Regions from separate parts of the Homo sapiens genome. Here region 2 is linked to region 1. Evidence: fine-mapped expression QTL. A gene starts in region 1. The other region holds a variant in brackets. All regions are shown on one strand. Distances are between the middles of the regions. Region 1 holds the start of PELATON (plaque enriched lncRNA in atherosclerotic and inflammatory bowel macrophage regulation). Region 2 overlaps PEDS1-UBE2V1 (PEDS1-UBE2V1 readthrough).

What was found. PIP is the estimated chance that this variant, and not a neighbour inherited with it, causes the effect.
Region 2: its variant is the best candidate, but not a certain one, in a credible set for the expression of PELATON in subcutaneous fat (GTEx, PIP 0.58).

The regions. Positions count from the first base shown.
Region 1 is chr20:50,265,477-50,269,858 of GRCh38, reverse strand. PELATON (plaque enriched lncRNA in atherosclerotic and inflammatory bowel macrophage regulation) reads right to left here and starts at 2,381. Exons shown (of 4, transcript NR_170992.1): 1 at 2,196-2,381.
Region 2 is chr20:50,128,485-50,132,866 of GRCh38, reverse strand. It overlaps PEDS1-UBE2V1 (PEDS1-UBE2V1 readthrough), which reads left to right. Exons shown (of 8, transcript NM_199203.3): 3 at 1,920-2,011; 4 at 3,177-3,321. PEDS1 (plasmanylethanolamine desaturase 1) reads left to right here. Exons shown (of 6, transcript NM_199129.4): 3 at 1,920-2,011; 4 at 3,177-3,321. Among named protein-coding and RNA genes, the nearest start is that of UBE2V1, 18 kb to the right of the region's middle. The variant C/T (reference allele first, on the strand shown) is at 2,449.

The DNA of each region.
Region 1 (4,382 bases):
CAACAGGAGCCCTCTGGCTGAGTGTGGAGGGCTGTGTGGGGTGGGTGGGGAGTCCAGGGCGGAGATTCTGCCCAGGCAGGCGAGCAATGACCAGACAGAGGAGGGAAGACTTGTCGAGTTCTGGATTCAGTCCACAGGCAGAGCCGATGGAATTTGCTGAGGATTGAATGTTGGGGTTAGAGAGAGAGGAGTTAAGGACAACTCTGGGGTCTGAGGCCTGGCCCACTGGGTGGGTGGCAGTGCTGTCTTCTCAGCTGGGAAAGACATCCATGTCTCCCAGTGGGGTGCGCCCCTGGGACACCCATGGACAGACTGACAGAGCCCGCATAAAGGCACGAGGGACCCCGCACAGCTGAGCTCACGGGGCAAGGGTCAGATGAAGGCAGGAGAGGGGTCGTTTTCAAGGCCCAAGGAGGAACGGGCAGGGAAGTAAGAGGAGAACCAGCGAGACCAGCAAGCCGCCATCAAGAGGCTGGGGAAGACTGTGCTCAAGGAGGGGGCAGTTACCCAGGGGGCAGACGCTGCCAAGAGGACCAGCCAGAGAAGGCCGAGCAAACCCAGGCCCACTGTGCCACTTAGGCCGTCAGTGAGACTCCAGCTGGTGGCCAGCCCAGCCGTGCCCCCATCACCTTCGGAGCCCACATCTCTTTGGAGCAGCCAGACAGGCTGAACCCTAATTGGCCTGAGTCAGCCACGGGAATTCCTTTCTGGTTCAAATGTGGACATGTGAGCCCATCATTCCATGAGACACCAGGGGACATCCACTGGGACATGTAAGAAAAATTGTTGGCTGGGCACGGTGGCTCACGCCTGTAATCCTAGCACTTTTGGGAGGCTGAGGTGGGTGGATCACCTGAAGTCAGGAGTTTGAGACCAGCCTGGCCAACATGGTGAAAATTCATCTCTACTAAAAATACAAAAAATTAGCTGGGAGTGGTGGCCCACGCCTGTAATCCCAGCTATGTGGGAGGCTGAGGTAGGAGAATCGCTTGAACCCAGGAGGCGGAGGTTGCAGTAAGCCGAGATCGTGCCATTGCACTCCAGCCTGGGCAACAGAGCAAGACTCTGTCTCAAAAAAAAAAAAAAAAAAAAAAGTGAGATCCTGGAGGAGAAAGTCCCCTTTTCTGTTCATCTCTTCCTAGTTAGGATGTGATCATGTGGGACGTGATGTCTTGAGCCACAGCAGGCACTGGGGCCCATGAAGAAAGAGAAGTGAAGAGATGCCTACCTAGAGCGCAGGGAGCCTGCCCTGGAACACTGGAATGGCCCCACGTTAGACTTCATGTTATAAGATTTAATTAATATTTTTACTGTTGCAGTCATAGAAGATGGCCTAATTGGGGCAAGAGGAAACATAGGAATGAACCTGAGACAGGGGAGAAAATGGAGAGAGGAGGGATGAGAGCTGGAAGGGGGTCAGAAACACCCAAGCACGGGGTTCAGATGCACAGCAGGCTCCCTAAGTGTGAGTTGCTGTTTCTGCAAACAGGAGTTGTTCCCTGAGCACCTACTCTCTACCAGGTACATTTCCAAGCCCTGGGTGTCCATCAAGTCCTTTAATCCTCCCAGCAGTGCCAGGGAGGCTTCATCTGCTCCCCACATCTCTGCTTCCCCCGCCCCATGTTCAGATTCTAAAAAACCAAAAGGGCTCCCTCTAATTCATCTCGCCCCCAGAGAGCACTGACTCCCCACGGTGTCCCACTGAGCCCCACTGAGTCCAGTCCACCTCAACTTTCCTGCCTCTGGGAACAGGGTACCCACCCTCTGAGGGCCCCACTTCCCAAAGTTCTTTGTCCTGGCACAGCAGGTGCTGAGTAGCTCCCTGGACCTCTGTTTCCGCATCTGTAAAAAGCCACTAATCCTAATTGCACCTCCTAGGCTGATTGTGATGACCCAGGAAGGACCCTTGACCCAGTGTCTGGCCTGTAGTAGGGCTCGGTAAGCGTGAAATCTGATTATTGCCCATTATATTTATGGTTATACACAGGGCTGGCCCTGCCTCCTGCTGGAGCCGTGGGTCTGTCCAGGTTGAGAAGCTGAGGTGCTTGGAGCGTCCCCAGATCCCAAACAGGGAGCTGGAGTAGGAGGCGGGAGCATGAAGTCTCCTGGGCCCCGCCCGCCACCTCGCCCTGCCGCCCCTGCTCAGCAGCCGCCCCGCCCTGCCACCTTGGTCTCTGAGAACCCATTGTTCCTACCTGGCTCTGCTCCAGGGTCCTGGCCTTGCCACTTTCCTCTAGGATCCCCCGCCACCCCCGGGGCTTGGGCCTCCCCGCGGGGTCCTAAATTGGGTGCCAGATGTGGCAGCTGTCCAGCAATGGGAACAGGAGCTGGAACCCCAGCTCTGCCACATCCCAGCTGTGTGACCTTGGGCGCTTCCCCTCTCTGAGCCTCAGCTTCCTTGTTGGTTAAATGGGATGACGGGACCTCACAGGGCTGTCATGAGGGTTTCGTGAGCCCAGGATGGCAGAGTGCCCAGCATGTGGTAGGGCTCGGGAACATTCATCCTAATTTCTCTGCTCCTCACGGGCCTAGAGGAAGAGCCAGGAACATCAGAGGCAGTGGCCAGAGTGGGTAGAGCACTGGAAGGGGAGTCTAAGGCCAGGGTCCCGGCTCCAACCCTGCTGTGTGACCTCGGGCAGGCTGTGGGTATCTCTGGGCCCCAGAATGAGGGAAAGAAGTAGCTGGGATCCTCCTTCCTCCCCAGGAAGCAAAGCAGAGGGGTGGTGCCAAGTTTTCTTTTCATTTTTTTTATTTTCAGCACAAAGGGCTCAAATGGAAAGCAGCTGCAGAGACAGAGAATCCGATTGTGAAGGCACCCGAGACTCCAGGCAGGCGGAAGAGGCAGCGTCTTGGGTGCTGGGCTGGGTAACAGAGGCCAGGGTATTGACCAGAAACTCCAACAAGCAGGGGACAGCTTGGGGGGTGGGGGGTTGTCTCCCACCCCTTCTTCAGGGTGCTGGCCTAGGAGACAGGGACCCCGCCTCGGGCATCTCCTGCTTAACCTCAGTTTCTGTGTCCAGACATGGGCAGGCCATCCTGACTCTCTTAGCCTTGGTTTCCATCTCCAAAATGTGTCCAGTAGTGGCACCTTCCTTCTAGGGAGGGGTTGTGTGGTTAAGGTCTCGGGGCGGGCTCCTCAGTCAAACAGGCTTGGCTTTGATCCTGCCTCTGCCTCTCACTAACTGTGTGACCTGGAGTAAGCCACCTCCCCTCCCTGTGCCTTGATTTTCCCATCTGTGAAATGGAAACAATAATAGAACTAATCTGCTGGGGAGATGAACTGAGAAGACTCAGCCTGGTGCCTGGAGCAGAGTAAAGACTAATGATTATTGTTGTCTTTCTTTTTGGAGGCAGAGTCTCACTGTGTTGCCCAGCCTGGAGTGCAGTGGCAGTGGCGCGATCTCGGCTCACTACAAGCTCCACCTCCCAGGTTCAATCATTGACCCTCCAGCCTCAGCCTCCCGAGAAGCTAGGACTATAGGCTCACACCACCAGGCCCAGCTAATTTTTTGTATTTTTAGTAGAGACCAGGTTTCACCATGTTGACCAGGCTGGTCTTGAACTCCTGGCCTGAAGTGATCTGCCTGCCTTAGCCTCCCAAATTGCTGGGATTCCAGGTGTGAGTCACCGCGTCCAGGCATCTTTCTTATTATTATTATCCCAGGAGCTCCACCTGCTAAGGCCCCAGCCTCAGAAAGCCTCCCTTCCCCTGAGTGCTGGTTCATCTCAACAATTTCCTCACATATTTCTTGAGCAGCAACTATACCGGTCTTGGCAAAGCCAAGGTTCTATCTAGGAGAAGAAAGACATTAAATGAAGGACCCGTGTGTGAAGGGCTTGGTGAGTAGCAGGGGCTCATTGACACTGTTCACCAGCACCTGCCCCCTCAGCTGCTCTGTGCTGGACTCTTTCTGGGCTCTGGGGACACAGTCTTCAGGGGAGTCCCAATCAGAGGGTCTGGGTGGAGGTGAGAAGCTGGTGTGTGGATGAGGCAGTTTCTCACACTGTGGCAAGGTCTGTGATGGAGGAAGTCCAGGTGACTTTGGGAGCTAGAGGTCAGGATGGGCTTCCTGGAGGAAGTGGTTAGGAATGAAAATAACATCTATTCAGCATTATTATTATGATGTGTCAGGCACTGTTCTCTCCTCAACACCCCGCTCCAGAAGGTTTTCTTCTCACACACCCATTCTACAGGTGAGTCTGGGATCAAAGAGGCCCAGTAGGGTGTCAGAGGTCACGTAGCCAAGACATGGCAGAGCTGAGATGAAACCCCGCAGTGGGACACTGCCCCACTTGCCCCCCGACAGCGCTCTCCAGCCTCCAGGCCTTTGCTCCAGCTCTTCCTTCTGCCCAGACATTCCAGACCCTGCACCGTCTCATAT
Region 2 (4,382 bases), 140 kb after region 1:
GCTTATCACACAGGAGGCCTTTGTGGAGTGTGGCTTAGTTGATTGACTCAATGACAGCAACAGTAATATGGCCTGAGGGCTTACTATGTGCCAAACACTGCACTTAGTAGTGCTCTACTGAGTTCTGAATAGGTGCCAAGAGCTGGGATGCAGCCACAAGCCAGACTAAAGCCCTGGCCATGGTGGAGCCAACCTCCTTGTTGGGGGAGAAAATAAACCAGCACAAGAGCAGTCAGAGGTGCCGAGTGCTTGGAGAACAATATACATAGGAGATCGGAAATGCTGGAAGATGAGGTGGTTGCAATTTTCCATCAGGTGTCCAGGGAGGACATTTGAGTAAACATCTGAAGAGGTGAGGGAGTGAGCTGTGTTGCATCTTAGGAAAGAATGTTCCAGGCAGAGGGAACAGCAAATGCAAAGACCCAGAGGCATGCAAGGGAAAGGAGATAAAGTAGGCCTGGGCTGCAGCGAAAGAGGAGAGTGATGGGAGGCAGCAGGGGTGGAAGCCTCAGTTTCCACCTCTATAAAGTGGGAATAAAAAAGCTACCAACTTAAAACAAATGGTGAGAATTCATCAAGATCTAGCCTGTAAAGCATTTGTGCTTGGCATTGAGAAAGTGCTCGTAAATGTTAGCATCATTCCCTTTTATTTATTTATTTTTTCAAGACAGAGTCTCACTCTGTTGGCCAGGCAGGAGTGCAGTGCATGATCTCGACTCACTGCAACCACCATCTCCCGGGCTCAAGCCATTCTCCTGCTTCAGCCTCCTGAGTAGCTGGGATTATAGGTGTGTGCCACCACACCCGGCTAATTTTTGTATTTTTAGTACAGATGGGGTTTCACCATGTTGGCCAGGCTAGTCTCGAACTCCTGACCTCAGGTGATCCGCCCACCTCGGCCTCCCAAAGTGCTGGGATTACAGGTGTGAGCCACGGCGCCCAGTCGCATCATTCCCATTTTACAAGAGGAAACTGGGCACAGAGAGGCTAAATAACATGTGCAGCGTCACAGCTAGTGAGTGCCAGCACTGGAATTTGAGTCCAAATCTACTGAACCCTCAAGTGAGTGAATGGTGTTGGAGTCTGAGGGAACCCTGCTCAAGTTCCGAACAGATTGAGAACAGAAACAAGGAAAAGGCTGCTGGAGACCAAATGATCATGTTTATTGCTGATAAAAGCTGGAGGGGTGGGGGTGGAGCAGCGAGGCTTCTATCTGCAGGTAAGGTACTTTCTTTTTTTTTTTTTGAGACGGAGTCTCACTCTGTCACCCACGCTGGAGTGCAGTGGTGTGATCTCAGCTCACTGCAACCTCCGCCTCCCGAGTTCAAGTGATTCTCCTGCCTCAGCTTCCCGAGTAGTTGAGACTACAGGCGCATGCCACCACACCTGGCTAATTTTTGTGATTTTAGTAGAGACGGGGTTTCACCATATTGGTCAGGCTATTCTCGAACTCCTGACCTCAAGTGATCCGCCTGCCTCAGCCTCCCAAAGTGCTGGGATTACAAAGCATGAGCCACCGCACCTGGCCGAGGTACTTTCTTTCTAACACCAAACCCAGAAGGACATTGCTGCAGTTCCAGGCAGCACTGGTGCAGAGCAGGCTTTCCTTATATGGGGCAGAGAGAAGGGCACAGCCTGCTCCTAATAGGGAAAGGTTGAGCTGATCTGAGCATGCCCAGTTTATGCTCTCCAGACTCTCCAAGCACATGAGTCTTGGCATCTCCCCGAGCACAGCAAGTAACAGGCAGGAGGAGTGTTAAGCCTGAGGCTCCATCTTCAGGGAAGAAAACATCCCAACTAGAGAAGAAGGGACACCTTCCCCTCCTAACAAATGAATGAGCGGGCAAGTGAGTAAATGAATGAGTGATTCTGATTGGGGGGGTGCAGGGATGTCCCTTCACTCACCCTCTTGTCCACAGTTGCAGGGGCTCTCATTGCTGACTTCTTGTCTGGCCTGGTACACTGGGGTGCTGACACATGGGGCTCTGTGGAGCTGCCCATTGTGGGGAAGGTGAGTATGTTGACCTAACCATGTCCTCAAGAAGGAGGTTGGGCTGTATGGCCTTGAGTGAGTCCCCTTTCTTCTCTAAGACTGTTTCCCTATCTGAAAGATGGGAACCATCATTGCAGCCTGTCCCTCACCCCTGTGCTGCAAGACTAGAACAGGAGTCCCTTGGGATTTTGGAAGCAAAAGCATCAGGCTTGGGATGGTCCAAGAGTTTAGATATGTGCCTGCCTCATCAGAACCCCTGAATTTGGGGGTGTCTTGCTTTTCCATTGTCTCCCCTGCTGCTTCTTGCTGTTTTAACTGCATTTTATCCTGTATTAGTCACTTTTTTGGTTTTGACAGAAAATCTAAACTGGCTTAGGCAAACAAGGGTACTGATTCATGTAACTGAAGATTTCAGGGTTAGAGCCAAATTAAGGAATGGCTGCATCCAGTAGGAC[C/T]GACAGACCACATTCTTCAGGCCCAGTCTTCTTCCATCTCTATCTCTACTTTCCCCTCATAAGGTGGCCAGTGTGCTTTCTCACCGCCCAGAGATCCATCCTTCCAGCTCCCAAGAAAAGAGAACTGTCCTTCTCCTTCCAGGAGAACAGCATTTCTCCTTCCCTGTAGTTTCCGCCAACTGAAGTCCCACGGCTCACTCCCATTGGCCCAGATTGGGTCACGTGCTGGGCCCTCAGGCAGTCACTGGCTAGAGGGAGGAGATGCTATGATTGGCCAGGCCTGGTCACGTGTTCTTTCTCAGCCCGGGGCGAGGTCAGCCTTGTCAGAAGAGCCTGGACTAAGGAGGGGAGGCTGTTACCCCAGCAGGTGCAGGGGGTCCAGAGGGTCCCACCTTTTACTTAGAGGGACCTCCTCAACTGCCTTGGGGTGGGGAGGAAGGGCGGAGGTTGTCTCCAAGCCCCCTTACAGCACAGGTAGGGAGACTGAGGCCCAGAGGCAGACAGTGCCAACCCAAAGCCCTTCCAGGGTCATTTCGGCTCATCTCCCCAAAGGCTGGATGGGGTCTGTGTCTGGCAGTGGGCCAGGTGGGAATGTTCAAGCATCCCGGGTGGAGGAAACTTAGGATCAAAGGCGGGAGGTGAGCCCAGGGTGAATGTGTTTAGGGGGCTGTGGAGAGCAGCTGACCACCTTAGGCTGACTGCTGGGGCTGTGTCCCCCTCAACTCCAGGCTTTCATCCGACCCTTCCGGGAGCACCACATTGACCCGACAGCTATCACACGGCACGACTTCATCGAGACCAACGGGGACAACTGCCTGGTGACACTGCTGCCGCTGCTAAACATGGCCTACAAGTTCCGCACCCACAGCCCTGGTGAGACACCCAGCTAGTGGTGGGCTGGGAGGGGGCCTTGGGGGCAGAGGCCGACCCCCAGGAGCCTTCTGGGGCTTATGTGTTTGGCTCCTTATGGTATTTTAAAAGAGTTTTCATTCATTGTCTTCATGTAAAATCAGGAAACCTGACATGAAGATGGAGGTTTCCAGCTTCTCTTGCACAATCTGCTCTGGCCCCCCTGGGTCCATGTTCCCACCTGGCCTCACTGGGTGGGAGCTGAGCTGCAGCCACTGCCTTTGACAGGACGCGTCTTTCCAGTTTACCACCGTCCCCACTATTCCTTGCTTCCCTGCACCCAACCCACCTTGTTCATTTGTGTTACCTGCCTGGCAGGGCTTCTGGGGTTTTGCTACCGTGGCCTAGTGGAAAATGTCTAGGCTGTGAAAACAGGGCCTGCCTATTTTTAGAGGGACTGGTCCCAAAGTAAGTGATTTCACCACTCTGAGCCTCAGTTGCCTTATCTGTCAGGTGGAGGTAGGTTGGGGCCCGGTCCTGTTCCAGCACCTTAACACCCATTTGTTCTTCAGGCAGCCTCCGGTGGGTAGAGGTGGTGAGGACGTGTAGTGTAGTGGGTGCTATGGCACCCTGCCCATCCCCTTCCCTGGGGGTGCACCCAGCCCCTGCTTCTGTGAGTGGTGGCTGCTGACAGCTCCCAGCTTCTCCAGGGATGGAGGGGAGGTCCCACCTGTCTCCTTGGGATAAGGCTGGAGCCAGTGACTGAAACGCCTCCGACGCTAGTCCCTTTGCCTCTGAGTGGGTCTAATTCTAAAGAGCCGTTAACACCTCAGAGCTCCTTGCAGGAACAGACTGAGACAGGACGCCACCCACCCCATCTTTGCTCTGCTCTTCCCCTGCCGTGTCTTGCTTCCCTCCCTCCCTTCGAGGTTTTTTCCTGAAGAGGCTCCCTTGATAAATCACATGCACAAGAACCTGTTTCAGGCTCCGCTTCTAGGGAACCTGGGTGAAGGCATCATTCCCATTTTCCTGATGGGGAAATTAAGCTTCTTAGAGGCAGAGTCACCGATCCAGCCCATACTGCC